Regions from separate parts of the Homo sapiens genome. Here all the other regions are linked to region 3. Evidence: fine-mapped expression QTL. A gene starts in region 3. Each other region holds a variant in brackets. All regions are shown on one strand. Distances are between the middles of the regions. Region 1 has its middle 27 kb from the start of SENP5. Region 2 overlaps PAK2 (p21 (RAC1) activated kinase 2). Region 3 holds the start of PAK2 (p21 (RAC1) activated kinase 2). Region 4 overlaps PAK2 (p21 (RAC1) activated kinase 2).

Region 1 (7,980 bases), 100 kb before region 3:
TGAGCCTAGGAGTTTGAGATCAGCCTGAAACCGCTATTGCAAAATTGTAACTGAGTCAGTGAAAGAGATCCGACCTAACCGACTCCATCTTGCGTCTAACCTCCAAGCTGCCCTTGTTCATTCCTGGGCGTAGGCTGAACTAACTTGGGGGGAAACTTAATTTATAGTTTAAAACAAAGACGGTAACAGCCCTTTCCCAAAGCAGACCTCCTTCTTGCCGGGGGACTAGACTAACATTAGTCACAAGATTAGAAATGATGGTTTAGGAGCCATGCAGCTGGAGGCTACAAGATTCTGACCCTCCCTACACTGCTCCTAAGATCAGCGCTTGAGATACTTTGCAGACTCCACACTTGATGGATCAGCTGGCACCACCCAGATGGATAAACTGGCTCATCTGATCTTGTGGCCCCGACCCAGGAACTGACTCAGCGCAAGAAGACAGCTTCAATTTCCCATGATTTCCTCTCCGGCCCAACCAATCAACACTCTCTCACTGGCCTTCCCCCACCCACCAAATTATCCTTAAAAACACTGATCCCCCAATGCCTGGAGAGACTGATTTGAATAATAATAAAACCGCGATCTCCTGTACAGCCGGCTCTGCGTGAATTACTCTTTCTGTACTGCAGTTCCCCTGTCGTGAGGTATCAGTTCTGCCTAGGCAACGGGCAAGGGGAACCCATTGTGCAGTCACAAGCCTGGGCAACATAGTGAGACCCCATCCGTACAAAAAATAAAAAAAGTAGCCAGCTGTAGTGGCGAGCATCTCTGCTCCCAGTTACTCAGGAAGCTGAACTGGAAGGATTGCTTGAGCCCAGGAGGTCAAAGCTATAGTGAGCCATGATCACACCACTGCCCTCCAGCCTAGGCAGCAGAGCTAGACACTGTCTCGATAAATAAATAAATAAATGGAAAAAGAAATGGCTGTTTCCTGATGAACTGAGTTGCTTGTTAATTGGTAATGAGGTCATCAGTGGGCTCTCATCAGTGAAATGAAAGGTGTTCGGGATCCTTCCATTGGCTAAAGTTATTTGAGAGACTCCTGCTGCCTTTGCATAAACAAGGTGTAAGAATCTAGTGAGGTCAGCAACGCGACCCCTTAGGAATGGCCCTCAGGGCTCCATCGTTACATAATCCTGTGACCAGCCACTAGTTAAGAGGATGTCTGGTTACATGATGCCATCTTTAAGGGTAACAGAATCCTGGCCCCTGGCACGTTTCCCTCTCTGCCTCAAGTGAACTTTTCATGCAAAGTTGTGGACAGAGCATTTGGGACAGAGAGCATGGATTATAGTGAGCTACAGGATAGGCTGAACAAACACTTTTGCTGACAAATGTTTGCTTAAATGAGCTTTCAGGTGTGTGACAAGATTTGGTCTGCGACTTGCTTTCATTATAATCTGGCAGGGGGGTTGTCAGAAGTTAGTTAACCCTCACCACCTCAAACTCCATAGGTAGCTATAACTTTACAGAAACAACCTAAGCATGTCCGGGTGAGGTGGCTCACACCTGTAATCCAAGCACTTTAGAAGGTTGAAGCGGTGGATCACTTGAGGCTAGGGGTTCAAGACCAGCCTGGGTCACATGGTGAAACCCGTCTACAAAAAAACACAAAAATTAGCCGGGTGTGGTGGCTGTAGTCCCTACTTGAGAGGCTGAGGTGTTAGGATCACTTGAGCCTGGGAGGTGGAGTTTACAGTGAGCTGAGATCGCACCACTGCACTCCAGCCCGAGTGACAGTGTGAAACCCTGTCTCAAAAAAAAAAAAAAAAAGGAAAAAAACAACCAAACAAAAATGAGGCATGATCAAACCTGGCTTAGGTTCATTTGCAACAATCTGCAGACCACGTTTTTCTTTATCCCTTTGTCAGAGGTGTTTGAACCGGAGTGACTCCATCTTGAATAAGGACTGGTTAAAATAAGGCTGAGGCCTGGAGGTCAGCACAAGATACAGGTCATAAAGACCCTGCTGATAAAACAAGATGTGTTACCAAGCCAGCCAAAACCCACCAAAACCAAGACGGCAATGAGGTGACCTCTGGTGGTCCTCACTGTTCATTAGACGCTAATTATAATGCATTAGCTGCTGAAGGACACTCCCGCCAGCACCATGACAGTTTACAAATGACATGGCAACGTCAGGAAATTACACTGTATGGTCTAAAAAGGGGAGGAATCCTCAGTTCCGGGAATTGCTCACCCCCTTCCTGGAAAACTCATGAACAATCCACCCCTTGTTTAGCATAACTGTAAGTATATTCAGTCAAGCAGCCCAAGCTGCCGCGCTGCCTATGGAGCAGACGTGCTCTATTCCTTTCTTTTCCTTTTTTTTTGAGACGGAGTTTTGCTCTTGTGGCCCAGGCAGGAGGAGCTCAATGGCACAGTCTCGGCTCCCTGCAACCTCTGCTCCCGGGTTTAAGTGATTCTCCTACCTCAGCCTCCCGAGTAGCTGGGATTACAGGCGCATGCCAACACTCCCAGCTAATTTTTGTATTTTTAGTAAAGATGGGGTTTCACCATGTTGGCAGGATGGTCTCGATCTCTTGACCTGGTGATCCGCCTGCCTCGGCCTCCCAAAGTGCTGGGATTACAGGTGTGAGCCACCCCGCCCGGCCCTATTCCTTTACTTTCTTAATAAACTTGCTTTCAGTTTACTCCGTGGACTCCCCTGGAATTATTTCTTGCATGAGGTCCAAGAACCCTCTCCTGGGGGATTGGGTCCCTTTCCATGAACACCTTTCTACCTCTTCTCCTTCCAAAAGTCCAGAGTTTACTCAGCCACAAAAGCTCCTCAATATAAAGTCTACCAAAGGCCAGGTGCAGGGGCTCACACCTGTAATCCCAGCACTTTGGGAGGCTGTGGCGGACGGATCACAAGGTCAGGAGTCCAAGACCAGCCTGGCCAATATGCTGAAACGTCTCTACTGAAAATACAAAAATTAGCCAGGCATGGTGGTGGGCGCCTGTAGTCCAGCTACTGGGGAGGCTGAGGCAGGAGAATCGCTTGAACCTGGGAGGCGGAGCTTGCAGTGAGCCGATTACACCACTGCACTCCAGCCTGGGTGACAGAGTGAGATTGCGCCCCCCACCCCCCAAAAAAAGAAAAAAATAAAGTCCACCAAACTCTGCAATTCTGAAAGAGGCCAGTCTTCAAAATTGCCTTTTGTGCCTCATTTCCCTATCCACTAATTCAGACACACAACAGGCCCTCAGCATGTTTAGGAGTTATGACTGAAGAGCATCTGAATGGCGAGTATTAAAGTTTGCACTAAATTATCCTGAAAAGGAGGCAAAGGGGGTATACAACGTTCATTCATCTCTATTGGATGCCTTTTTTTCTTCCTCCTAGAAGCAGGATCCCTGAATTAGGATAGGCTGAAATTTATAGGCTTCCCAACTATTCTCCTTTTTGAATATTATTATTATTATTATTATTATTATTATTATTATTATTTTGAGATGGAGTTTCACTCTTTGTGCCCAGGCTGGAGTGCAATGGCATGATCTCAGCTCACTGCAACTTCCACCTCCTGGGTTCAAGCGATTCTCCTGCCTAAGCCTCCCAAGTAGCTGGGACTATAGGAGTGCGCCACCACACCCGGCTAATTTTGTATTTTTAGTAGAAACAGGGTTTCACCATGTTGCCCAGGCTGGTCTTGAACTCCTGACCTCAGGTGATCCACCCACCTCAGCCTCCCACAGTGCTGGGATTACAGGCATAAGCCCC[G/C]GTGCTGGCCTCTACAGGCTACTTTATGGCTTCTGTAAAGTGTCTCTTTATACTAAAATTTAGAGGACTATGTATTTCTGACTTTGAACCAATGTTTCATTTATCTGGCTTAAATTGAATTAAATTGTTTCTCTTTTGAAGTGCAATTTCAACTATCCATAAAATAGTTTCCAATCCAACATTTAAAATCTTTCAGTAAAATCCTCCCTTTTTGTTTATTTATTTATTTTTTGAGACAGAGTCTCACTCCATCACCCCAGGCTGGAGTGCAATGGTGCGATCTCGGCTCACTGCAACCTCTGCCTCCTGGGTTCAAGCAATTCTCCTGCCTCAGCCTCCTGAGTAGCTGGGATTACAGGCGCACGCCACCATGCCCAACTAATTTTTGTATTTTTGTAGAGATGGGGTTTCACCATGTTGGCCAGGCTGGTCTGGAACTCCTGACCTCAGGTGATCCAAAGTGCTGGGATTACAGGAGTGACCATTTCTAGGTACTTTGTATTTTTGATCTGTTATAAATGGTAGATTTTTAAGATTATGTGTTCTATTTGTTGCTAGTGCTTAGCAATATAATAGACTCTTGCACACTGATTTTGCATACAGCAAACTTGCTAAATTTCTTAATTTTAATAGTTTATCATATCAACCTTATCTGAAAATAATGAGATTTTATCTTGCTTTCCAATTCCTTTTTTTTTTTTTTTTTTCGAGACCAAGTCTCACTCTGTTGCCCAGTCTGGAGTGCAGTGGCGTGATCTCGGCTCACTAAAACCTCCACCTCCCAGGTTCAAGTGATTCTCCTGCCTCAGCCTCCAGGATTACAGGTGCCCACCACCACGCCCGGGTAATTTTGTATTTTTAGTAGAGACCAGGTTTCACCATGTTGGCCAGGCTGATCTCAAACTCCTGACCTCAGGTGATCCACCTGCCTCGGCCTCCCAAAGTGCTGGGATTATAGCCGTGAGTCATTGTGCCCAGCCATTGCTTTCAAATTCTTTTTTTTTTTTTTGAGATGGAGTTTCGCTCTTGTTGCCCAGGCTGGAGTGCAATGGTGTGATCTCGGCTCACCACAACCTCAGCCTCCCGGGTTCAAGTGATTCAGTTCACTCCTGGCTGGCACAGTGGCTTCACTGTAATCCCAGAACTTTCGGAGGCCGAGGCACGTGGATCACCTGAGGTCAGGAGTTCAAGACCAGCCTGGCCAACATGGTGAAACCCCGTCTCTACTAAGAATACAAAAATTAGCCAGGTGTGGTGGCTCACACCTGTAATCCCAGCTACTCGGGAGGCTGAGGGAGGAGAATTGCTTGAACCTGGGAGGCGGAGGTTGCAGTGAGCTGAGATCATGCCACTGCACTGCAGTCTGGGCAACAGAGCAAGACTCTATCTCGGAAAAAAAAAGTTCACTCCTAATTTGCTAAAATATATATTTTTAATCATGAATTGATACTGAATTTTACTAAATGCTTTTTTTTTTTTTGAGATGGAGTTTTGCTCTTTTTGCCGAAGCTGGAGTGCAATGGAGAGGTCTCAGCTCACTGCAACCTCTGCCTCCCAGGTTCAAGTGATTCTGCTGCTTCAGCCTCCCGAGTAGCTGGGATTACAGGTACATGCCACCATGCCCGGCTAATTTTTGTATTTTTAGTAGATACAGGGTTTCACCATGTTGGTCAGGCTGGTCTCGAACTCCTTACCTCAGGTGATCCACCCACCTCGGCCTCCTAAAGTGCTGGGATTACAGGCGTGAGCCACCGTGCCCAGCCAATGCTTTTTTTTTTTTTTTTTTAAGAGACAGTGTCACTCTGTCATGTGGGCTGGAGTGCAATGGTGCAATCACAGGTCACTGCAACCTTGAACTCCTGGGCTCAAGCCATTCTCCTAGCTCAGCCTCCAGAGTAGCCAGGACTATAGGTGTGCTACCATACCTGGCTAATGTTTTTTTATTAGGTTTTTTAGAGACAGGGTCTCACTATGTTGCCCATGCTGGTCTTGAGCCTGGCCTCAAGTGATTCTCCTGTGTTGTCCTCTCAGAGTGCTGGGATTACAGGTGTGAACCACTGGGCTCAGCCACTCTCTTTAATCTGTTGAGATGCCCAGATAATCTACTAATACTGTAAATTATCTTGATTTTTACATGCATAAGCCTACTTGTTTAGGATGCACTACCTCTTTCATACATTGCTAGATTCGGTTTGCTAGTAATATATTTAATAATTGCACATTTGTATTTATGAGATTATCCTATACTTTTTTTTTTTTTTTTTGAGACGGAGTTTTACTCTTGTTGCCCAGGCTGGAGTGCAACGGCACGATCTCGGCTCACTGCAACCTCTACCTCCTGGGTTAAAGTGATTCTCCTGTCTCAGCCTCCTGAGTAGCTGGGATTATAGGTGCATGCCACCATGCCCAGCTAAAGAGAGGGAGTTTCACCATGTTGGCCAGGCTGGTCTTAAACTCCTGACCTCAGGTGATCCACCTGCCTCAGCCTCCCAAAGTGCTGGGATTATAGTTGTGAGCCACTGCGCCTGGCCTATCCTATAATTTTCTTCTTCAATTATTTTGGTATCATGGCTACTCCATCCTTATAATAGAATTTGGGGAATGTTTTCTATATCCTCAAATACTTTGTGCAGGATTGGAATTTTTTCTTTGAATATTCTTAGAACTCATTGGTAAAACTGCCTGGGTGTTTGCTCTAAATTTCATCCAGGGAATGGGGAAGAACTACCCCTGTAAAATGGGTTAGAAGAGAGGGAAACAAACATAAATTGTCTTTGATTGCAGCCTTCAAGAACTGCTTGGTCTACAAAACTGACCAGTATCTAGGTATAATGCAAAGAGAAAGGTCTGAAAAGATGGAAACTAGTAAGAGATTTCCTTTGGAACGGGGACTTGGACTGGGATTGAAGAGGCTTTCTTTTGTCTGAATGGCTGAAATTTTATAAATCAGAATGTATTTCTCTATTATGTAGTTACTTTTTTTTTAAGAATAAGAATTATTACAGGGAGCCAGGCTCTCTGGAGCACTAGGAAGTTGGGGAGACACCCAGACTTGTTTTCTCTCCCTATGAGAATGTAGCTTTGCTGATACCAAGTTTGACTCAAGAACCAAAAGAACTCCATGTTTCTGAACAGTGAGACTGCTTGTAACATTGAATAATGTTACATTTGAGTTCTTCCAGAATGGGACATAAACCCGAGGATAGCAGGGCAATGGCAGGAATTGGGCTTTCACCTCTGGCAGGCTCCATCTTTGAGGAGCATGACAGTGGGAGCAGCACCCCCTAGAGGACACTTAGGGGCCAGGAACACCCATGAAGGACTATTTGCTCAGGGTCACCTAGGCTCCTGCTAAACTAAATCAATCAATTGCTCAATCAGGAATTTGTAGCAGATACTTGTGGTCTCCTCCCACGATGGATCACTAAACTTGCAACACTGCCAATTACATTTAAACTGCATTTATGACTTCATAAGCAATTACGTTTCTTCAAAACTAGCTCTCTAGCTGAGATGAGGCCTAGAGAGTTGAAAAGTTTCCAGTTCCTTAACCCAGAAGAGCTGAAATTCTACCTGGATAACACTGAAGAGATTAATGCTCTAGCCCCTTTTCTCATATCTAAAAGTGAGCACCCCATCAACCATGTAGTATCAAAGGAGTCAACAGACGGGGCAGTGCTCTGTAGAAATAGTAGGGGAAGAGCTACAAAAAAATTCCAATAGAGCAATTTTCACACTCAAACTATAGTAGTCACAATTATATACTATTTCCATCCCTCCTTCTTCACTAACGAGTCTCATTTTATCTGGAGAAACACTCTTCCCTAGACTCTCTTGCAGCTATGAGGTGCCAAATGACAGTTCTGGCCAGTGGGACAGAAGTTGAGGGTTTCTGGGAAAATTTGTGTTCTCTCGATATAAGCACTACTCCCTTGTGCTTTCCACGTTGCCTTTTGCCATCTCTCTTTCTCCTGCTTGACACCCGGACAAGAGGTTGGAGGTGCACCAGCCATCTAGTATCTATGTTGCAACAGGCATTAAGGATACAGGCCTACATGCTAAGAATGATAGAGTGACAACGTGGAGTCCCAAGTGCTGGTGGGGTTGCTGGACTCCCTGGTTGTCCCAGGACAACCCCAGACTGACAAACACTGAACTTCCTGTTACATTAAAGGTACTAACACTTTGGAACCTGTGGTTTACAAACTTATTTCTAATAGATACATAAAACAATTCTTGGCTGGGTGTGG
Region 2 (7,518 bases), 85 kb before region 3:
TAAAACTGACTTTTTCACATTTGTTAAAAAAGGTAAAAATCACATACTTTTCTTCCCTTCCTTCAGGTCAAGTTCTGAACTAAAATATTACATGTAACAACAGCTGGTCCTAACTTTTATACAAAGTGAAACTATATAGAGCTCCTTTGCCAACATAAGGAGCTACATAATTTCTATTACACTTGCCTAGGCATGAGAAACGCAAAAGCAACTCAAAAGGAGCAAGTCCAGGAAAAGAAAAGCTATGAAGGAGAGAAAGACTAGCAGATGAAACACATACTCTGAAAAACTCCAATCTGCCATTCAAGTATTGGAAATACCCCAAAGGGGACAATGAATGGGATCTATTACAACAAAGTCAGCAAAGTAAAATGCAAATCTCACACATGATAAATGGCCCTGATAGGCTGTTTGCTGAAAGACCTAAGGCTAGTGATTCAGTCCACAATTCCTTCTGGACCCTAAAGAAGGGGTTCATATAAAAGTCATACTTGTCTTTTTGCAATTTTCTCTTGGTTGTCTTCAGAGAATAGTCATTTGCTTCTTTCATTCAGGTTATGCAGACCATTTCTTTAAACCCCAAAAAGAGTAATAATTTTCATATACTAAAAGGCTTCTTGTAGAAAATGGAAAAAAGAGTATGAGGCCACAGCAGTGATGTTAACGGTTACTCTTCATTGCTTCTTTAGCTGCCATGATCAGTGGTGTCAAGCTAGATAACGGTTTGGCCAGTTTCAGGAAAGGATGCTGCCAGAAAGAAGGGGAAAAATAAATGTATAAGTGCCATTCATCAGGTTAGAAACAAAATAATTTTGTTCAATTAAGCCCCAAAGACTACTTGTCGATCATAATTTAATAAACTAAACACATATTAATACCTTCATAAGACTAACATAATCAACGCATTACTTTCAGAGTTGAATGAAAGCAGAATCATTTTAGTTTGACAAATATACACACAACAGCAATAAACAGGTCTGAGGAGTGATACGATGCACAAACTGTAAACAGGTCTGAGGATTGATACGATGCACAAACTGTAAACAGGTCTGAGGATTGATACGATGCACAAACTGTAAACAGGTCTGAGGATTGATACGATGCACAAACTGTAAACAGGTCTGAGGATTGATACGATGCACAAACTGTAAACAGGTCTGAGGATTGATACGATGCACAAACTGTAAACAGGTCTGAGGATTGATACGATGCACAAACTGTAAACAGGTCTGAGGATTGATACGATGCACAAACTGCACATTACGGTTTTGTCAGAATTTTATTCACAGCAGATGAAACCCTCACTTTTTTTTTTAATACTTTAAGTTCTAGGGTACATGCGCACAACGTGCAGGTTTGTTACATATGTACACATGTGCCATGTTGCTGTGCTGCACCTGTTAACTCATCATTTACATTAGGTATATCTCCTAATGCTATCCCTCCCCACTCCCCCCACCCCACAACAGGCCCCGGTGTGTGATGTTCCCCTTCCTGTGTCCAGGTGTTCTCATTGTTCAATTCCCACCTATGAGTGGGAACATGCAGTGTTTGGTTTTCTGTCCTTGCGGTAGTTTGCTCAGCATGGTAGGATGAAACCCTAAATTGCAGCAGCTGCCATACCGCTGGTGATCAATGAGTAGTGAAATCTACTTATTAGCCCTAGGAAAGCTTTCTGTCGGTTACCAAAAAAGTCAACTATTCCCCCAAATGAAATCATTTTTAAATTTACCTGTAATAATTCTTTGGCTGAACCCCTTTTTTCCACATCCATTTCCAAACATCGATTTAAGAAATCCCGAAATATTGGGGAAAGTTTCTCTGGATTCTGAAGTTCTGGGGTTCCATTAGTTGCTATTAGGTACAAGGCCTAAAAATAGAAGAACATCTTTGATCCACTTAAGATAGCTCAACACGGTCACAGAGCACTCCATAAAGTCTAAGGGATTCTTTCTTCTTTAAAGAAAATCACCATAAATACTAAACTGGGGTTATCATTATCCCATTTAAATTTAGATTTGATACTTTCCTCTTATTTTTAGATGTTACATTTCCTTAAGTTACTTTTC[T/C]GAAATCAGATTCACCTTTGGTTTTTCTTCGGTTATAAATGCAATACATATTGCTTTTGTTTTGTTTTTTTTTGTTGAGACGGAATCTTGCTCTGTCACCCAGGCTGGAGTGCAGTGGTGCAATCTTGGCTCACTGCAACCTCTGCCTCCTGGGTTCAAGTGACTTTCCTGCCTCAGCCTCCCGAGTAGCTGGGATTACAGATGCATACCACCATGACCTGCTAATCTTTGTATTTTTAGTAGAGGTGGGGTTTCATCATATTGGTCAGGCTGGTCTTGAACTCCTGACCTCAAATGATCCACCTGCCTCGGCCTCCCAAAGTGCTGGATTGCAGGTGTGAGCCACTGTGCCCAGCCCATATTGCTTTAAAAAATAAAACAATGTTAATAATTAAAAATAACCACAACCTCACCATTGACCATCCTGTTTAGGTTTCTCAAATTTTTTTCAAGTCATACATATCATTAAAAAAAATGAGATTTGTTAAAACTTAAAAAACAAAAAACAAAACAAAAAAAAACCAAGGCCGGGCATGGTGGCTCACGCCTGTAATCCCAGTACTTTGGGAGGCTAAGGCGGGCCGGTCACGAGGTCAGGAGATTGAGAGCATCCTGACTAACATGGTGAAACCCTGTCTCTACTAAAAAATACAAAAAATTAGCCGGGCGTGGTGGTGGGCGCCTGTAGTCCCAGCTACTCGGGAGGCTGAGGCAGGACAATGACGTGAACCCGGGAGGCAGAGCTTGCAGTGAGCCGAGATTGCGCCACTGCACTCCAGCCTGGGCGACAGAGCGAGACTCCGTCCCAAAAATAAACAAACAAACAAACAAACAAAAACAAATTAGGCTGGGCATGGTGGCTGATGCCTGTAATCCTAGCACTCTGGGATGCTGAGACAAGTGGATTGCCTGGGCTCAGGAGCTCGAGACCAGGCTGGGCAACATGGCAAAACCCCATCGCTACTAAAAATACAAAAAAAAAACAATTAGCTGGGTGTGGTGGCACATGCCTGTAGTTCCAGCTACTCGGGAGGCTGAGGCAGGAGAACTGCTTGAATATGGGAGGTGGAGGTTGCAGTGAGCCAAGATTGCACCACTGTAACTCCAGCCTGGACAAGACAGCAAGACTCTGTCTCAAAAATAAAAACCAAAAAAACAAATTATCCCAGGTCATCATTACTAATAACTACCTAGATCTATAAAATTACTGTAATGGCTTAAGTAAATATTGCCTTATATGAATGTTTCCTAATTTAATCAACTCCCTTTAGAAAATCCTTACATAGTTCTAATTATTTCCTTTACATTTCTATAAATTGAATTTTATTTATTTATTTATTTATTATTTATTTTTGAGACGGAGTCTGGCTCTGTGGCCCAGGCTGGAATGCAATGGCACGATCTCAGCTCGATGCAACCTTCACCTCCTGAGTTCAAGCGATTCTCCTGCCTCAGCCTTCCGAGTAGCTGGGATTATAGGCGCCCGCCAAAATGCCCGGCTAATTTTTTGTATTTTCAGTAGAGACGGGGTTTCACTGTGTTGGCCAGGCTGGTCTTAAACTCCCAACTTTGTGATCTGCCCGCCTTGGCCTCCCAAAGTGCTGGGATTACAGGTGTGAGCCACTGCATCTGGCCTATTTATTTTTCTTTTCAGACACAGTCTCGCTCTGTTGCCCAGGCTGGAATGCAGTGGCATGATCTCAACACATGGCAACCTCTGCCTCCCGGGTTCCAGCAATTCTTGCAGCTCAGCCTCCCGAGTAGCTGGGAGTACAGGCATGCACCATTACGCCTGACTAATTTTTGTATTTTTAGTAGAGGTGGGGTTTCACCACATTGGCCAGGCTGGTCTCAAACTCCTAACCTCAAGCGATCTGCCCACCTTGGCCTCCCAAAGTGCTGGTATTACAGGCATGAGCCGCTGCGTCTGGTCCTAAATTATTATTTTTAACTGACTAATTTTTTAGAAGTTTTAGGTTTACAGAAAATTGAACAGATAGTACAGAGTTCCCACACGCAACCTCCCCAATGTGGAGTTTTATTATTGTCTACATTATTATACTATGGGACATTTGTTACAAATGAACCAATATTGATACACTTCTATTAAATTAAAGCCCTCAGTTTACATTAGGGTTCACTCTGTATTACATTACACAGTCCTATGGTCTTGTTTTTTTTTTTAATGCATTCTCGATATGTTGCCCAGGCTGGCCTTGAACTCCTGGGGTCAAGAGATCCTCCTGCTTCAGCCTTTCAAGCAGCAGGGACTACAGGTGTGCACCACCGTGCCTAGTTGTTCCATGGGCTTTGACAAATGAATGCTCTCCAGTGTCCGCCATTATAATATCATACAAAGTAATTTCACTGCCCAAAAAAATTCCCTGTGCTTCACCTACTCATCCTCTCTACCCCCGATCCCCTGCCAAACCCCATAACCACTAATCATTTTTACTCTCTACAGTTGAAATAATATGTAGCCTTTTTAGACTGGATTCTTTCACTAAGCAATATGCATTTAAAGTTCTTACAACTGAAATGCAGTCGTGAGATTGTTTTAATGAACTTCTGTCCGTTCCAGTTGCCTGGAAGTTTTTCTCATTATGGGCTGCATCTGCCTGCTCCTTTGCCTGTCTGGTAAACTTTGACTGATGTCTGGGTGATTGCTGGGTCCTGGCTATTTCTGTATTCCTACCAATATGCTTTTTCCCCCCATCAGGCAGATAAAATCTTGTTGTATTTGAATGACTGGATCTATGTAATCACCAAGATCCACTATGTACAGACGAGAGAGGGAGACCTTTATTTCTTAGTTTCTTCCTCCTGGGACAGTCTTAATGATTTTCTCTTGGCCCAGAGGCACTCTCCGTGGAACTACAGTGCTTTCCTGGTCTTAGAGCCATGTGCCCTGGCCTGGTCAATGAGAAGCTTCTTGAGGCCTTGTCTATCTTCAGCTTGGAATGAGTTCCGAAGAACCTGCTTGTTTCTGAACACGTCCCCCTTCACTTCATGTACAGGCTCTGATACACGTGAAGGTCAATCTCGGTAGATTCATAGTGTCTTCTGAGCAGCTGGGGTGGAATTCTCATCTTCCTCATCCAGGCTGCCTTTTTGGTAATGTGTGCATTAGCAGTTATGCCCATATGCCTGTGGGCCAAGGTGTTTTTTTCTTTTTTTTTTTTTTTGCGACAGAATCTCTCCCTGTCGCCCAGTTTCAAGCAATTCTCCCACCTCAGCCTCTCGAGTAGCTGGGAATACAGGTGCACGCCACCATGCCTGGCTCATTTTTGTATTTTTAGTAGAGACGAGGTTTCATCATGTTAGGCTGGTCATGAACTCCTGACCTCAAGTGATCTGCCCACCTCGGCCTCCCAAAGTGCTGAGATTACAAGCATGAGCCACCGTGCCCGGCCCAAGGTGTTTTTTTTGTTTGTTTGTTTGTTTGTTTGTTTGCGGGGATCCAGCCTGGGAATGGATAGTCACAGGCTTGCAGATGATCAGCCCATCTTTGATCAGCTTCTGGATCTGCTGATAGGAGCTTGGCGCTGGTGATTTTACCGATCTCACTGAGGTTCAAGTAGACCTTTTTGCCACAGTGAAGGCCACTGGAGGCGAGCCTCTTCTGAAGCCTGAGCGTACTCCTGGCTATAGACGCAGCCCTGTAAGACTCTTCAGCTTTGTACAGGAATGCAGTTGAGTTACTTGGGAACAGATCCCGTTAGTCTTTTCTCTCTCATGTAGACTCTTCTTTCAAAATACATCCAGACTCACACCACTTTTTCCCACCTCCACTGATACTGCCCTGGTCTAGGCCATCATCACTGCTTGCCTGAATTATGACATCAGCCTCTTGACTGGTCTTCTGCTCTGCCTTTGCCTTCCTCAGGGATCTCTCAACAACGCAGCCAGGGAAATCCTATTAAAACTGAAGGAGACCACTTTGCTTCTCTGCTCAGATCTCTCTAACAGTTTCCCCATTTGGCCTCCAGTAAAAGCCAGAATCCTTCCAGAGCTCTCATAAGGCACTACGGTCTGGCCTGGTTTCTTCGCCGATCGACCGCACCTCTCGCTGTTTGCTCAGCGTACGCCAGCTGTGCTGAGGTCCAGAATCATCTCTCAATACACAAGGAACGCTCCTGCTTTAGAGCTTTTGCACTTGCTGTGCCTTCTGCTTAGAATGCTTTTCCCTCAGGTAAGTATCACGCTCTTACTTCCTGTGTCCAAATGTCACCTCAGGGAAGCCCTCCCTATGCACGCTTTTGATTTAATTTTACATTTTATTTTTATTGTATTTTTTTTGAGACAGGTCCTAGCCGTCACCCAAGCTGGAGTGCAGTGATGTGATAACAGCTCACTGCAGCCTCATCTTCCTTGGGCCCAAGTGACCCACGCACTGGGGCAGGATGATGGTTCCAATTAGCTGTGACTACAGGCACACACTAACATGCTTGGCTAATTTTTAAATTTTTTTGTAGAGATGGGGACTCACTATGTTGCCTAGGCTGGCCTTGAACTCCTAGGCTCAAGCAATCCTCCCACCTTGGCCTCCCAAAATGCTGGGATGACAGGCGTGAGCCACTGTGCCCAGCTCTCTAAGCACCTTTTGAAAGTAAACACCCTAACCTCCTTCCTGCCAGTCTCAGTACTCAAGAGTCCATTATTCAATGTATGACACATTATTCTGATTTATTTTGTTTTTCTCTTTTCCCACTAGAAGACAAGTTCTGTAAGAGCAGGAATTTTTGTGGGTTCTTTTAGACAGCATTGTGAATAGTGCTCAGCGCATGGCAGGTACCCAAACCAATACTGGCTAAATGAATGAATAACATTAGAGGGCTTTAATGTCATTCTGAAAAGTGGTCTAAACTAATCACCTCTATAGAAGTACTTTAACGGCCCACATAAACTGGAATCTTTGGCAACTGGATGAAAAGCATTCAGGAAACAGACGGTCAGAATCTGCTGCCATCTGTTGTTCGGCTTCTTTCACTTAGCACAGTACTCTCAAGGTTCAATGCTGTAACACGGATTGGCACTTCCTTCCTTTCTATGACCAAATAATATTCCACTGTTCACCAGGTTTGAATTATTTCCACTTCTGTGGCTGCATGAAGGTTTCTGTATGGATGTATGATTTTAATTCTCTTGGCTCTGTACCCAGCAGAGGAACCGCTAGGTCATCTGGTAATTCCGTATTAACTTCACACAGAATTGTCAAGTTGTTTTCCAAAGCAGATGTACCATTTTATATTTTGCAATGAACGAGATTTCTAGTTTCCTTATCTTCTCACCAACATTTATTTATTTATTTATGGAGACGGAGTTTCGCTTTGTCGACCAGGCTGGAGTGCGATGGCATGATCTCGGCTCACTGCAACCTCCGCCTCCTGGGTTCAAGTGATCCTCCTGCCTCAGCCTCCCACGTAGCTGGGATTACAGGCACCCACCA
Region 3 (7,980 bases):
ATTTTTTCTCCTGAAAAATTACATTTTATTCATCCAAAAGTAATTTTTATTTTTAGTTACGGTCTCAGAAACTTCGTTCTTTTAGAAGGCAGTTTTTTGTTTGTTTGTTTGTTTGTTTTTGAGACGGAGTCTCACTCTGTCACCCAGGCTGAAGTGCAGTGGCGCAATCTCAGCTCACTGCAGCCTCTGCCTCCTGGGTTCAAGCAGTTCTCCTGCCTCAGCCTCCTGAGTAGCTGGGATTACAGGCGCCCGCCACCACGCCCAGCTAATATTTTTATTTTTAGTAGAGAATACTAAATTCTCTACTAAAGAATAGTAGAGAATATAGGTTTCACCATGTTGGCCAGGCTGGTCTTGAACTCCTGACCTCAAGTGATCGGCCCACCTCAGCCTCCTAATGTGTTGTGATTACAGGTGTGAGCCACCGCACCCGGCCTAGAAGGCAGTTTTAATTCTAAGTTTAGGAGTATCGACTCTACAGCATGTAAGAACAGACTATTAACTAACGTTTATTAAGACCTATAATTACAGAATCCTTTACCTGCATTCCCTCATTTGATCTAAATATCCCTGTGAAATTGGTATTATTATTATTATCCCCATCTTACAGGTGAGAAAAGCAAGTCTTGAAAAGAATGTATATCTTGCCCAGGGTAAAGTAGAACAGCAAGAATTCAAACGCAGGACTCTAGCTCCTAACCACATGGGATACATGGAGTAAGTACTAAAGAAACTCAGAGATAGTAGGCTGGAACACTGAAATCCTGAATGAATGTTCAGACTGACTACCCTTAACCAGGCAGGTGACCCTAGAAGGGAAGAAGTGATGAAACTCAACTCTGATCACAGAAGAAAACAACCAGTATTTTATTTTTTGGGGGCAATGAGGGATTTTTTTCCTTTCCTATTCTGCTCTGTTAAGGCACAAAAAGGATACTAGGAAGAGCTTGGACACACAATTTGCAATTAACACCCTCCCTCTGATTAGTCTGGAAACTCAACTCTTATACCAAACTGATGGAAACCTTTACGACTTAAAGTCTTGAAGTTGACCCAGTTTCTTTTTCTTTTTCTTTTTTAATGAGACGGAGTCTCGCTCTGTAGCCCAGGCGGGAGTGCAGTGGCGCGATCTCGACTCACTGCAAGCTCCGCCTCCCGGGTTCATCACGCCATTCTCCGGCCTCAGCCTCCCGAGTAGCTGGGACTACAGGCGCCTGCCACCAAGCCCGGCTAATTTTTTGTTGTATTTTTAGTAGAGACGGGGTTTCACTGTGTTAGCCAGGATGGTCTTGATCTCCTGACCTCGTGATCCGCCCGCCTCGGCCTCCCAAAGTGCTGGGATTACAGGCGTGAGCCACCGCGCCCGGCGAAGAAGACCCAGTTTCAAATTTTAACCAAAAGTGTAAAAGTCAGAAAGCCAAAAGAAATATACTCAAATATTATTATAATAATAATCGATTTTGATGGATAAAAGGAAGAATCTAACAATTCCTACTCATTTTATCCTTGGCTACTTGAAGTTCTTAAATATTAGAAAAGTATAATTGAAAGTTTATCTTTAGCTACCTGAACAAGTTCTAGTCTCTCTTAAAAAGTATAATTGAAATAGAAACTGTTGGTGGTGTGCCGTGGCTCACGCCTATCCCAGCATTTTGGGAGGCTGAGGCGGGCAGATGACCTGAGGTCGGGAGTTCGAGACCAGCCTAACCAACACGGTGAAACCCCATCTCTACTAAAAATACAAAATTAGCCGCGCGTGGTGGCGCGTGCCTGTAATCCCAGCTACTCAGCAGGCTGAGACAGGAGAATCGCTTGAACCCAGGAGGCGGAGGTTGCGGTGATCGCACCATTGCACTCCAGCCTGGGCAACTGAAACTCCGTCTCAAAAAAAAAAAAAAAAAAGAAATATTAATTGTTAACCGCATCTACTTGGGAACCTGTCTATCATAAAGATCAGAGAGCCCTATCGCCTGTATACTCGAACTATAAACTTAATTTTGAATTTGGGTTTGCAAGGTTAGTATTAAATAGCACGGAGTCCAGAATAGTATCTCTCTCTGAATGAGAGTAAACCATAAACCAAGGCCCTAAGGGAAGTGAAATACCCAGGAACTCTTCCTTCATAAAAATATCTGCTGATTAGAAGAAACTGGCAGAGAAGCCAACATCTACAGACCAAGTTTCAAACTCCAACAAAACTCCAACCTTTCTACACCTTAATCCCTCAGGCCAATAAAACATCCATTAAGTTAAGGACAACTGATACTACTATTTAAGAAATGATGACAGTATTGAAGCTGAGTATTGGAGCCACTTTTTTCAGAGCCTTGCTGGAGGGAAAGGTAACAATGGGCTACTTAGTGAAAACACAAAATACACTGAATTTAGGTCAACCTGTTACCAAATCGGAAAGTTGGTTTAAGACCTACATCTATTACAGGTTCACTTTCCGTAATAAGTGTCAATCAATGTGCTTGGCTAATAAGTAGCTCGAAAGATTTAATAGCCGAGGATGACACAGTGAAAAAGTTGCCTGAAATCCATACTCCTAACAGAACATGAAAAAGGCTCTTCATATATACACGAGCATGAGTGGGCTTTACAGAAGCCACAGACCTTCTGGCAAAGTTGACAAGTTTTAACCTGCTTTAAAAATTACTATTCACTGCCTTCATCCCAATGTAACTTTACTGAGTGTTATTCTATTGGACAACCCTACAAAAACAAAATCCCCAGAGCAAATTCTTGTACATTTCAATATCCTGCCTACTTATAAGAGCGGAAGAGTCGAACACAGCAGGGGAAAAAACGTGACGTGCACAACCTTGATCCAAAACACAGCTCTTCGTAGTTTAATTTTAGGCCTAACCATTTTGTCTTTTTATAAAGGTTAAAAAAGAAAACAAAGAAAGGACACATCGCCTGTAACGCAGAAGTGAGATAATGATATCAACCGGAGTTCGTTATTTATCAAGGGACAACAAATCACGCTCACACTGCCCAGGGAGAGTACTACTAAAATTAAGATACAAGGATGGGTACAACCTCACACCCACTGACGATGACACGCTTCTGTTCTTGGATGACTTATCTTTAAAGAATTAGTTAAAAGGTTGAGTGGCAACGTTTTGTGTTTGTGCGTGCGTGTGTTTCCAAGAGAGCCAAACATGGTGAAAAACCAATCTTAACTTCACCTAAGTTATCTAAAGAAGCAAATTTCACCCCTAGGCTGAAGCTCAAACAGGAGCGAGGAGAAGCTCCGAAAGATCAGTTCGTAAGCGGTGGCCCTCAAGCGCCCGGGACGCTCTACGTTTTTACCAATGTGGAATGTGGAAAAGAGGTTACAGGCTGGAGCTGAGAAAACAGTCAAGCTACTCGCGACAATATTCCTGAGCAGTGAAACGGGTGAACAGAGAGCGAGCAAGCAGGGGCTGAGAATCAGTGAGAGGAAAAATCAAGGAACAAAACCGGAGAGTCTGGTCCAGCATTAAGAAAACGGAGCAAAGGAAGAGGGTGAAACGCGAGGGGAGGGAAGACCGAGAGTCGGCAGAGACCGTGGTGCCGCGAGGTTCAGAGCAGGGCTGGGTCCAGGAAGAGTCAGACCTCCGCAGCCCAGCGAGCTTCCCATTTCTGGCTAAAGCCAGCGAAGAAAACGGCCCTGGGGAGCAGACAATGAGCCACCGCCCCAGGAGCTGCGGCTCCCAGCACGCAGGTGGCGGCTCCCCGGCCCCGCGCGGGGCAGGTCGGCCGTCCCGGGCCGCTCCCGCCCGCCAGGCCACGGAGAAGGAAGGAGGAGGAAGAGACCCGGCCTGCGTCCCGCGCCGGCCGGCCTGTGTGCACTTACCCCGGGCAAGGCAAGGTCCCCGCCCCAGCGAGGCGCCTCGGTCAGAGCTCCCGGCGGGCTGCGGAGCCGCCCCGGGCTAGCGCGCGGTGCGGGGAGGGGAGGGGAGGGAAGGGGAAGCGGGGCGGGAAGAGACGCCGCGCTGGAGCAGCCGCTGCTACCGCTAGGCCCAGCGGCGGCGGAGTCCTGCGCACGCCAGGGAGGGGAGGGGAGGGAGCCTTCGGCAATGGCGACGGCCCGGGCCGGAGGGGAAGCGGAACAACCGCCGCCGCTGCGCGTGGCCACAACCCTGGGGGAGGAAGACGGCGGGGAGCGGGGCGGGGCGGGGCCAGAACCCAGAACCCCTCCCGCCCCGAAGCCGGAGCTCCCCGGGGCGGAGACGAGCGCCACCTCCCATGGGCAGGCCCGCGCGGGGGCCGCTGGGAGTAGTAGTTCGGTGATAGACGTTGCTTTTATTCCTTGGGTAGTCTTTGTATTGAGAGGAGCAGCCAGTCCCTCATTTAATTCAGCATTGTCTCCAAGCAGGTCTCTGCCGACGGAAGACGCTGACAGACGATTGCTGTTATACACATCTGCTCCGCGACATTTGTTTCTGGGAATTCATCCGTTATCCATTTTGCTTTTTTGCTTACAAATTCTTAACTAAAATTTTGCTGCTAAATTAAGTATCACCTCCTTGCAAATTAAGACTTCCCTATTTTATCCACGGAGGAGTTCATCAATGTTTCACTTATTCTACAAATATTTGAGTGTCTGATATGGACTAGACACTGTTAAGCATCAGAAATACAAGGGTGGTTCAGGTGCGGTGGCTCACGCCTGTAATCCCAGCACTTTGGGAGGCTGAGGCAGGCGGATCACCTGAGGTCGGGAGTTCGAGACCAGCCTGGCCAACACGATGAAACCCCGTTTCTACTAAAAATACAAAAATTAGCTGGGCATGGTGGCACGCATCTGTAGTCCCAGCTACTCGGGAGACTAAGGCAGGAGAATCGCTTGAACCCAGGAGGAGGAGGCTGCAGTGAGCCAAGATCGGGCCACTGCACTTCAGCGTGACAGAGTCGTCATGCCTCAAAAACAAAACAAAAAACACAAAAGAAATGCAAGGGTGAACACGATTCACCAAGCCTTTGTGGAGCTTATATGAGGACGCAGTAATTAAAGTAGTCACACCTGGTATAAGAAAAAACTTGGCGAGGTTACTTTGGATAGGGTGGTCGGAGAAGGCCTCGTTAAGGAGGTGACACTTAAGGCAAGAACAGAAAGAGACAGCAATAAGAAGCACCCAGAGAAAAGCAATACAGGCAGGAGAAGAAAGAAAAGGGCTTGCTACGGTCAGTTAAGAAGGCCTGTGTAGCTGGGGCCTAGAACAAGAAGGCGGTACTATTAAGAAAACACTACAGCAGACAAGATTCAGGTCATGAAAGATCCTGAATGCCATGGTAAAAAGTCTATATTACAAAAAACCATTAAAAGGCTTTTTTAAGCAGGAAAGCGATGTTACCTGGCTTACACTTTAAGATCACTAGACTGCAATGTGGATAATGGAGTATAGAGATGCAAGAATAGAAGGGAAATAAAGTAGGAAGGCAGTGGAAAGAAAGAGGAATTGTGCTTCTCTATCAATGTAGAGCAAAAAACTCAATTGATGCAGTGGGTACAGGAGAGAAAGGAATCAAGGAGCAACATGGCACAGTAAGAGATAACCTGAAAAATGCTCTGATTATTAAACACACAGAAACACTGGATAAATAAGACATCCTTTCAAAGGCATAACTTGCAAGAATGAAAATAGAATGTTTCTGACAGTCTTCCAAATTTCACACTCAACCTGAAGAAGGGGCAGGACACCAGAGTGGTAAGCAGGGCAGTGAAGCCATGGTTGTGTTGAGGGCACCTACTTATCTCAGAAATCTCTAGAGTTTTAATAGGTGCACAGGAAACTAAAGACAAGGACTTGGGCCTATACAAGAAGTCAGGACTGTGATCCTGCATAGGACTGGAAATTCAAGGCGCTATACCCTCCAAGAACAGACTGGGGGGAAAAAAAACCCTATGCTAGCCCAGGGAGACACACAGGACATTTGTTTACTTTGGCCTGCAGTGGGCTTGCAGGGCAGAAGAAAATTTTCCCTTTAGAATTAATAACCCTTTAGAATTTTCCCTCACTAAGGTTTTAAAGTTCAAATTTGTCAAGAAAGTGGTCCCAGGCTGGAGTTCTGGGGGGCCTGGAAGAAACAAATACAAATCCTGACTGCACAGGTGTACCCTCAACCTCGGTCTCAAAGGATTTCACAGATAAACAGGATTTCCGAAGCCAAACATGAGCACCCGAAATACAATACACCTGAGGAAATAAGCAGCGATGAGTGAGTCAATAGAAACTACAAAGAACATAATGAAACCCACACAGACTTTAGCTGCTGGAATTGATGGCTACAGAATATACAGTACGCCTATTTAAATGATTAAAGAAAGTAAGACAGGAGCTAGAAAACACGAGCAAGAAACAAGATGCTTTTTTTTTTTAACGACCAAACAGCTTTGAAAATGAAATAAGTAGGCCAGGCGCGGTGGCTCACACCTGTAATCCCAGCAGTTTGGGAGGCCGAGGTGGGCAGATCACCCGAGGTCAGGAGTTCGAGACCAGCCTGGCCAACATGGTGAAACCCCAGTCTCTACTAAAAATGCAAAAATTAGCCAGGCGTGGTGGTGGGCACCTGTAGTCCCACCTACTCAGGAGGCTGAGGCAGGAGAATCACTTGAACCTGGGAGGTGGAGGTTGCAGTAAGCCAAGAACATGCCATTGCACTCCAGCCTGGGCAACAAGAGCAAAACTCCGTCTCAAAACAAAAACAACAACAACAAAAGAATTAAGTAGAATTTCTAGAAACAAAGAATAACTGAAACCAAAGCCAATGTTTGGTTAAATAGCAGATTACACACAATTGAAGAGAAAATTAGTAAACTGGAAGACAGACCAAAAGAAATTACTGAGAACAGCCTAGAGACAGGAAAAATGAAAGCAAGCTTAAGAGACATGGGGATAGATTGTTAAGGTCTCTACCATACTCCTAATGAGAATTCCAGGAGAGAAAAGAGAAAAACCAAGAGAGGCAGATAATGATGAGATAATGGCTGAAAAATTTCCAGAATTGATTAAAGACAGGAATCTTCAGATTCAGGAAGCAAACTGAATACCAAGCAGGATAAGTAAAGAAATTTCAAACACATGAAAATGAAACCGCAGAATACCAGAGATAAAGCAACCAGAGAGAAAAGACATTCTGTACAAACAACTATTACATTCATAGCAGATTTCACAACAGCAAAACGGGTGCCAGTCAATAATGGTATATTTTCAAAGTACCAAGAGAAAATAACCAAGCTTAGAAGTGTACAGCTACCGGCTGGGCACAGTGGCTCACACCTGTAATCCCAGCACTTTAGGAGGCTGAGGTGGGCAGATCACCTGAGATCAGGAGTTCAAGACCAGCCTGGCCAACAACGGCAAAACCCTGTCTCTGCTAAAAATATAAAAAATAGCAGGGTGTGGTGGTGTGCGCCTGTAGTCCCAGCTACTTGGTAGGCTGAGGCAGGAGAATCACTTGAACCCAGGAAGCAGAGGTTGCAGTGAGCAGGGATCACACCACTGCACTCCAGCCTGGACGACAGAGCAAGACTCTGTCTCAAAAAAAAAAAAAAAAAAAAAAGTGTACAACTACCTAAATTATCCATCAGATGAGTGAGGATGAAATAAATATATCATCAAACATAAACAAGCTACCAACAGAGACACACTAAAGGAACTCCTTAAAAGGTATATTTCTTTCTTTTTCTTTCCCTTTTTTTTTTTTTTTTGTGACGGAGTCTCACTCTGTCGCCCAGGCTGGGGTGCAGTGGTACGATCTCGGCTCACTGCAACCTCTGCCTCCCGGGTTCAAGTGATTCTCCTGCCTCGGCCTCCCGAGTAGCTGGGATTACAGCCGCATGCCACCACTCCCGGCTAATTTTTTGTATTTTTAGTAGAGATGGGGTTTCACCATGTTGGCCATGTTTACAAGATAATACAAACAAAACCAGAAATGTTCTGTTATACTAAAAGTGATGTCATCTGCAACCATTTATCTAAGCAAGAA
Region 4 (6,737 bases), 93 kb before region 3:
TGTGTAAAGCTCTGTAACAGCTGGGTGTGGTGGCTCACGCCTGTAATCCCAGCATTTTGGGAGGCTGAGGTGGTGGATCACTTGAGGTCAGGAGTTCAAGACCAGCCTGGCCAACAAGGTGAAACCTTGCTTCTACTTAAAATACAGAAATTAGCTGGGTGTGGTGGCTCACTCCTGTAGTCTCAGCTACCTGGGAGGCCGAGGTAGGAGAATTGTTTGAATCCGGGAGGCGGAGGTTGCAGTGAGCAGAGATCATGCCACTGCGTTCCAGCCTGGGTGACAGAGTGAGACTCTGTCTCAAAAAACAACAAACAAAAACTTCAAGAACCAATTCTCAAATTAAACTTTTTTATCTGCAATATCCCTTCAGGGAAGTGATTATCCAAACTACAATGCACAGTCTCATATTGCCAACTATGCAATACTGTAAAATACACAATTTCACACTGTGTGACCAAATAGGGATGTACTGGGGGCCTTCTTTGTGTAAAGCTGTGGAACAGCCAGACGTGGTGGCTCACGCCTGTAATCCCAGTACTTTGGGAGGCTGAGGCGGGTGGATCACTTGAGGTCAAGAGTTCAACACCAGCCTGGCCAACATGGTGAAACCCCGCCTCTACTTAAAATACAAAAAATTAGCTGGGCGGTAATGGCACGTGCCTGTAGTCCCAACTACTCAGAGGCTGAGGCAGGAGAATCGCTTGAATCCAGGAGGCAGAGATTGCAGAGAGCCGAGATTGTGCCACTGCACTCCAGCCTGGGCGACAGAGTGAGATCCTGTGTTAGAAAAAAAAAAAAAAAAGCTGTGTAATATTTGCAGCATAATTTCCATAATGCATCCATTTTTTAAATACGAGAGATGGGAGAAAAGTGCAAATAGCTCTGTGCAGCATCCTGTTACTTCTGCATCTGCTCCCGCAATATCAGAGGGGAAAAAAGCAATGAGAGGAGACTACATTTATCAAATGTTGACTTTGTGCTAGACATCATTCTAAATATTTTATTTGAAATGAATGAATTTAACCCTGAAAACCCCCTATGATGTAGGCCCTTGTATTATCACTCAAAACAAAGCACAGAAACAAGCCCACCAATTCACATTAACCGTTTTTGTGCACATTCTACTAGAGAGGGCTGTTACTAACTTCAAAAAGCGTAAGGAGTCCTCCCCCTAGCAGCAAATCTCAAAATTAAACACAGTTTCATTTAAAAGAAACTCACAAGTTCAAATGTGACTCTAAGATGAAACTAAGTAAAAATAAGCTTTCATACAGTTCTGTGTCTTGCTTAGTGACTGGATGGGGAACGTGCAGCAACAAACACTCGTGCACTCAGACCCATGATAACACCTTGACCAGCTGTGCTTTGTCATAAAAAAAAGACACTACGGAAATGGGACAGAGCAGGCGCATAATGGAACACCGTTTATCCGTGGTAAAATACGCAGGGCTGAAGGGAAGTGGAAAAGTATTTGCTGACAATGCAAGTTATATGAAAGTAGCTGATCCACATATCCAACAGTCCATGGCCAAAGGTCACTTTCAATGACACCACAGTCTTACGGCATGCTCCAATAGAGCATGAACAGATGAACAAATGAGATGGTCATTTACACTCCTACAGCACCAAGAGTGTGAACAAAACAGTGACAGTATCTATACTAAAACCTCAAATGATTAAGATTTTTAGTTTACTGAAAAACAGCTCAACAAAGATACTAGCAGCAAATCGTAAAGTGTACTAAAATGTAAGGAATATTGAATGTGACTAAGATGTCTTCTAGTTTCAATCCTGAAACTCCTTAAAGATTTTACTGACAATATATTAAAGCAATCACAGTTGGATTGTACTGTTAGATATTACTTAATTTTATGGCCGTGATCAACTAGGTTTTGAAAATGGTACACTTCTATTTTATTGAGACGGAGTCTCAAAAAGCTGTAGTGCAATGGTGTGATTTTGGCTCACTGCAATCTCTGCCTCCCGGGTTCAAGCGATTCTCCTGCCTCAGCCTCTTGAGTAGCTGGGATTACAGGCGCCCGCCACCATGCCCGGCTCATTTTCTATTTTAAGTAGAGACGGGGTTTCACCATGTTGGCCAGGCTGGTCTTAAAACTCCTGCCCTCAGGTGATAGATACACCCACCTCGGCCTCCCAAAGTGCTGGGATTACAGGTGTGAGCCACTGCGCCTGGCCCTATACTTCTATTTTAAATATAGAAGTCAAAGTGAAGTAGTTTATTAAGAATTGGAGGAAAATAGTTTTTTGGCAACGCGTTGATGATGCTGTGCTGTACATACCTACAGGTCTAAGAATGAAAAACAGAAATGTATGGCACTGTCACTCTATCTGGCACTGTCACTCTATCTGGCCTGTTACAGCACTACGAGGGTGAGACGTTTGCATCTGCTCCAGAGCAAACTGGGACGGATGAACGAGGGAATGCAACGGGCACCTTCTAACAACTATCCAGAGATGACGTATCCACGGGCGTCATTCCTTTCAAGATCAGGAGTCTCTTTTTTTTTTTTTTGAGACGGAGTCTCGCTCTGTCGCCCAGGCTGGAGGGCAATGGCGCGATCTCGGCTCACTGCAACCTCCGCCTCCTGGGTTCACGCCATTCTCCAGCCTCAGCCTCCCGAGTAGCTGGGACTACAGGCGCCTGCCACCACGCCCGGCTAATTTTTTGTATTTTCAGTAGAGACGGGGTTTCACCACGTTAGCCAGGATGGTCTCGATCTCCTGACCTCGTGATCCGCCCGCCTCGGCCTCCCAAAGCGCTGGGATTACAGGCGGGAGCCACCGCGCCCGGCGAAGATCAGCAGTCTCTTCACGTAACTCACAAGTTTATATAAATGCTGTCATTTTCTGAACAAATTGTTTCCCAGAAATGCAGCATTTTTAGTCTTTTTCCCTAACCCCAAACTAAGATGTATGGGTAAAACAGCTATAATCAGGATTATTGAGACTATAAAATTCTCTTTATAGAGATATAGGCAATTACCAACTCTTTTTTTTTTGAGACAGGGGCCTTGCTCTGTCACCCAGGCTGGAGTACAGCGGCACCATCTTGGCTCACTGCAACCTCTGCCTCCCAGGCTCGAGCCATCCTCCCGCCAAGCCCTAGAGATAGAGCTTCTGAAATTAACCACAGGCTTTTAAAAGTTTTCTTAGGCAATGCTTTGAGCATTTGCTATTAGTTCAAAGAAATATAAATGTTAGAACAAGACGAAACAGCCATATAGTGTAACAAATACATTTCAAAGTCATTGCCTCCCCTTCTCACCCAGAATATATATATATATATATATATTTTTTTTTTTTTTTTTTTTTTTTTTTTTTTTTTTCTTTTTGAGACAGGAGTCTTGCTCTGTCACCCAGGCTGGAGTGCAATGGCATGATCTTGTCTCACTGCAACCTTCACCTCCCGGGTTCAAACAATTCTTGTGCCTCAGCCTCCCAAGTAGCTGGGACTACAGACATGTGCCAGTACACCTGGCTGATTTTTTTTTGTATTTTAGTAGAGATGGGATTTCATCATGTTGCCCAGGCTGGTCTCCTGCCTGAGCTCAGGCAATCCGCCAGTCTCAGCCTCCCAGTGCTAGGATTACAGGTGTGAGCCACCACGCCTGGCCTTATTTTATGCTTTTTGATAGTAAACCATTATTGTGGCTGTTCCCTATGTTAGGGTACCTAAGATTCCAAATTAATTCACATAATGAAGTGATGCCTTACGACGTATTGCACTCTAAAAGGTTTCTTGGTTCACTTAACACAGAAATTCTGATCAGGTTTTTATTACTCCAGCAAGGTGTGTGTTCAAATCAGAACTGTTTCCCTGGGTCTGATAGAGAAACATTGATAAAGAAAATTATTCTGAACTTGATTTAGAAAGGGAAAACTTCCCCTAACTACTCAGGAGGCCGAAGCAGGAGAATCACTTGAACCTGGGAGGCAGAGGTTGCAGTGAGCTGAGATGGCGCCACTGCACTCCAGCCTGGAAGAAAGAGTGAGACTTGTCTCAAAAAAAAAAAAAAAAAAAAAAAAAAGGAAAACTTCATGTTTACTGCCCACACATTTCTAGAAACCTTCCTACTTTGGAGCTTTGTAATAAATTCAAAATGATGGCACAACACCATTAAAAGGTTTAAAACATTTATCACTAAAAATACTAAATGTTCTTTGAAAACCTATTAAGACATTTAAATATTCTTTTATGCTATCAAAAGACATTAAAATATTCTTTTACGCTGATCAAAAGAAAGAATAAAAGTTTAGGAAAGGGAAAAATGCACACTTTTTTTAAAAAGTTTATTTCTAGCCCTGAAAGAACAAAATTATTGAACAAAGTCAAAATACAGCAGTTAATGTCAATGTATAACAATTAAATAATTGAACGGGATTAAATTAAAAATAAAAGGCATAAAATTTGAAGACAACAGAAAAGACAAAAACTACTTTTGCTTAATTCCATTTCTATCAAAACAAGAAAAAAAAAGCCAATGCGTTCCAACCAAAGATGTTGAATTCCACACGTAACTGTTTCTCTTATTACTTCTGTTCTCTTAGAAACACTTCTAAGTTCTAAGAGAACAGAAGTGTGCTTGACAGAACTATCATCCATTTCTTTCTGCCTCTGTCTTGGCAGCTTTCTAGAGAAGTGAATGGGAAAGACTTCGGTTCTTTCAAGGCCAGGCCAGCGCTTGC[T/C]TCTTCTTTCGAACTCCAACCTCATCCACCACAGCATCTTTGCCAGAGTGTTCAATCAATGTGTTGACTGAGAAAAAAGAATGTGTGTATCTATTTTTTCTTATATACACACACTATCAAAAAACTGATTTTACCAGTTTCAATACCTACTGTGGGAGCAGCGGAGACAGGAAGACAATCTGCTTTTTGTATTACTATGAAGTTCCACTATAAAAAACCCCAAATGAGTATTAATCTGGATTTTAGCTATAATCTATAATATTTTGACACTGACATTTCACTAGATGTGGATCTCAGTATATTTTAAAAGATTTAGACTCAAAAATGGATGCAAATTCTTTAAGCATCTATTTTGTTTTTTTCTAATTTTAGCTACTACCTGATCAGATCTAAAATTATTCTGGCTAGAATACAGTATATACAAACATGTATTTAAGTGAGCCCTAAAAGAAATACTCATAGGTGGTTTAGAATCGCTTGTTAGAGGCACAGGTTCGTTTACAGTTGCTGGTTACTAGACTGTACGCAGCTGGACACTTCTATGTTAAAGGGAAGAGAATGAATACTATGTGCCAGGCAGTCAACACATGAAGACAGAGTTGTATTAGCCTCAGTGTCTTATGCTTCACAATTACTCGTTTACTTTCAGGTAGGATAAAATGTTCCATGTTTCATAGTTTCCCAGTTTTAATTGTCCCTAAAAGCAGCAGAAGAAAAAAGAAAAAGAGAAGATAACTTTAAATCTAAAATAAAATAAATAAGTACTATAATAATACTGTCCTAATAACACAAGAGGACTATTAAGGTAACTTTCAGATTTAAATGGGAATTTTCATTCTAAAGTGATGACAAAAAGGGTAAATATAAAAGGCAATTATTTAAAAAACATGAGGCCAGGTGCAGTGGCTCACGCCTGTAACTGCAGCACTTTGGGAGGCCAAGGTGGGCAGACTGCCTGAGCTCAGGAGTTGGAGACCAGCCTGGGCAATGTGGTGAGACTCTGTCTCTACTAAAAATACAAAAAAATAGCTGGGTGTGGTGGCGGGTGCCTGTGGTCTCAGCTACTCAGGAGGCTGAGGCATGAGAATTGCTTGAACCCAGGAAGCGGAGGTTGCAGTGAGCTGAGATCATGTCACTGCACTCCAGCCTGAGTGACAGAGTGAGACTCTGTATCAAAAAAAATAAAAATAAAAAACATGAATCTTGATTCAGATATAATTTTTCTTTCAACAAGTTCTGAATGTTTTAAAATTAATAAATCACAATTCTGTATTACTTTTAAGATTGTTTAAAAATGACACATTTCAAAATTAACCAAAGTATATTTCTGTTAGAGGTTAGTTTATCCACGTAACTTAAGAATAAACCACAGCGTAGCTCCCTTAACCAAAGAGCCAGGTTTTAATGACAAGTCAGTTGCCAGCAATGGACGTGCAGGTAACTATCGAAGAAGTCGCAACTACAAATCCCAAACTGCTTCTATCAATGGAAAAGCCCTTTGTTGAGTCACAAGCCTGAAACGAGGCGTTGGCACATAGTCAGTGAGGATGGTCTTTGACTTAGGAGGGAAGTGCCTCTGAGTACATGAGGATCACAGTCTTCTCATCTCGTTGGTTTTCTATTTCATTGGTAGCATCTTCTTTATCATAATCCATCCAACTGTTTACAAAGAATGGTAAAATTTGGAACTCAGGTGGCACTGCAGCTTTCTGCCAGAAATAAACCAGTTTCTATAATTCAGTAATAGCTGTAGAAGGCCAATATATTCCAGAGAAAAATGAAATCAAGAATTATATTGAAAACAGAGACCATTAAGTGCTCTAAATATGTTTCATTAATTATTTTACTCATTTTTCTGAAAATCTTGCCTTATCAATAAAAAACAGTCACTTCTCTCCTTATAATTGCATCTTATCATAGATATAGTGGAAATAAAATAATGGAAATAAAACCTGCCAGTTTCTCCAATGTATACTACAACAGCAAAATTATTTTTTATTCATGATTTATACTACTGCAGGATGGCAAGC

What was found.
Region 1: its variant is fine-mapped to the expression of PAK2 in whole blood (INTERVAL, PIP 0.92).
Region 2: its variant is fine-mapped to the expression of PAK2 in skeletal muscle (GTEx, PIP above 0.99).
Region 4: its variant is fine-mapped to the expression of PAK2 in whole blood (TOPMed, PIP above 0.99).

Annotation. Positions count from the first base shown.
Region 1 is chr3:196,837,081-196,845,060 of GRCh38, reverse strand. No RefSeq gene overlaps it. Among named protein-coding and RNA genes, the nearest start is that of SENP5, 27 kb to the left of the region's middle. RefSeq lists a silencer at 2,908-3,062. The variant G/C (reference allele first, on the strand shown) is at 3,731.
Region 2 is chr3:196,821,548-196,829,065 of GRCh38, reverse strand. It overlaps PAK2 (p21 (RAC1) activated kinase 2), which reads right to left. Exons shown (of 15, transcript NM_002577.4): 14 at 1,733-1,870; 15 at 1-747. The coding sequence ends at 661. Among named protein-coding and RNA genes, the nearest start is that of SENP5, 43 kb to the left of the region's middle. The variant T/C (reference allele first, on the strand shown) is at 2,070.
Region 3 is chr3:196,736,022-196,744,001 of GRCh38, reverse strand. It overlaps PAK2 (p21 (RAC1) activated kinase 2), which reads right to left and starts at 4,145. Exons shown (of 15, transcript NM_002577.4): 1 at 3,845-4,145. RefSeq lists a silencer at 3,565-4,354.
Region 4 is chr3:196,830,049-196,836,785 of GRCh38, reverse strand. PAK2 (p21 (RAC1) activated kinase 2) reads right to left here. Exons shown (of 15, transcript NM_002577.4): 15 at 4,139-6,737. Among named protein-coding and RNA genes, the nearest start is that of SENP5, 35 kb to the left of the region's middle. The variant T/C (reference allele first, on the strand shown) is at 4,708.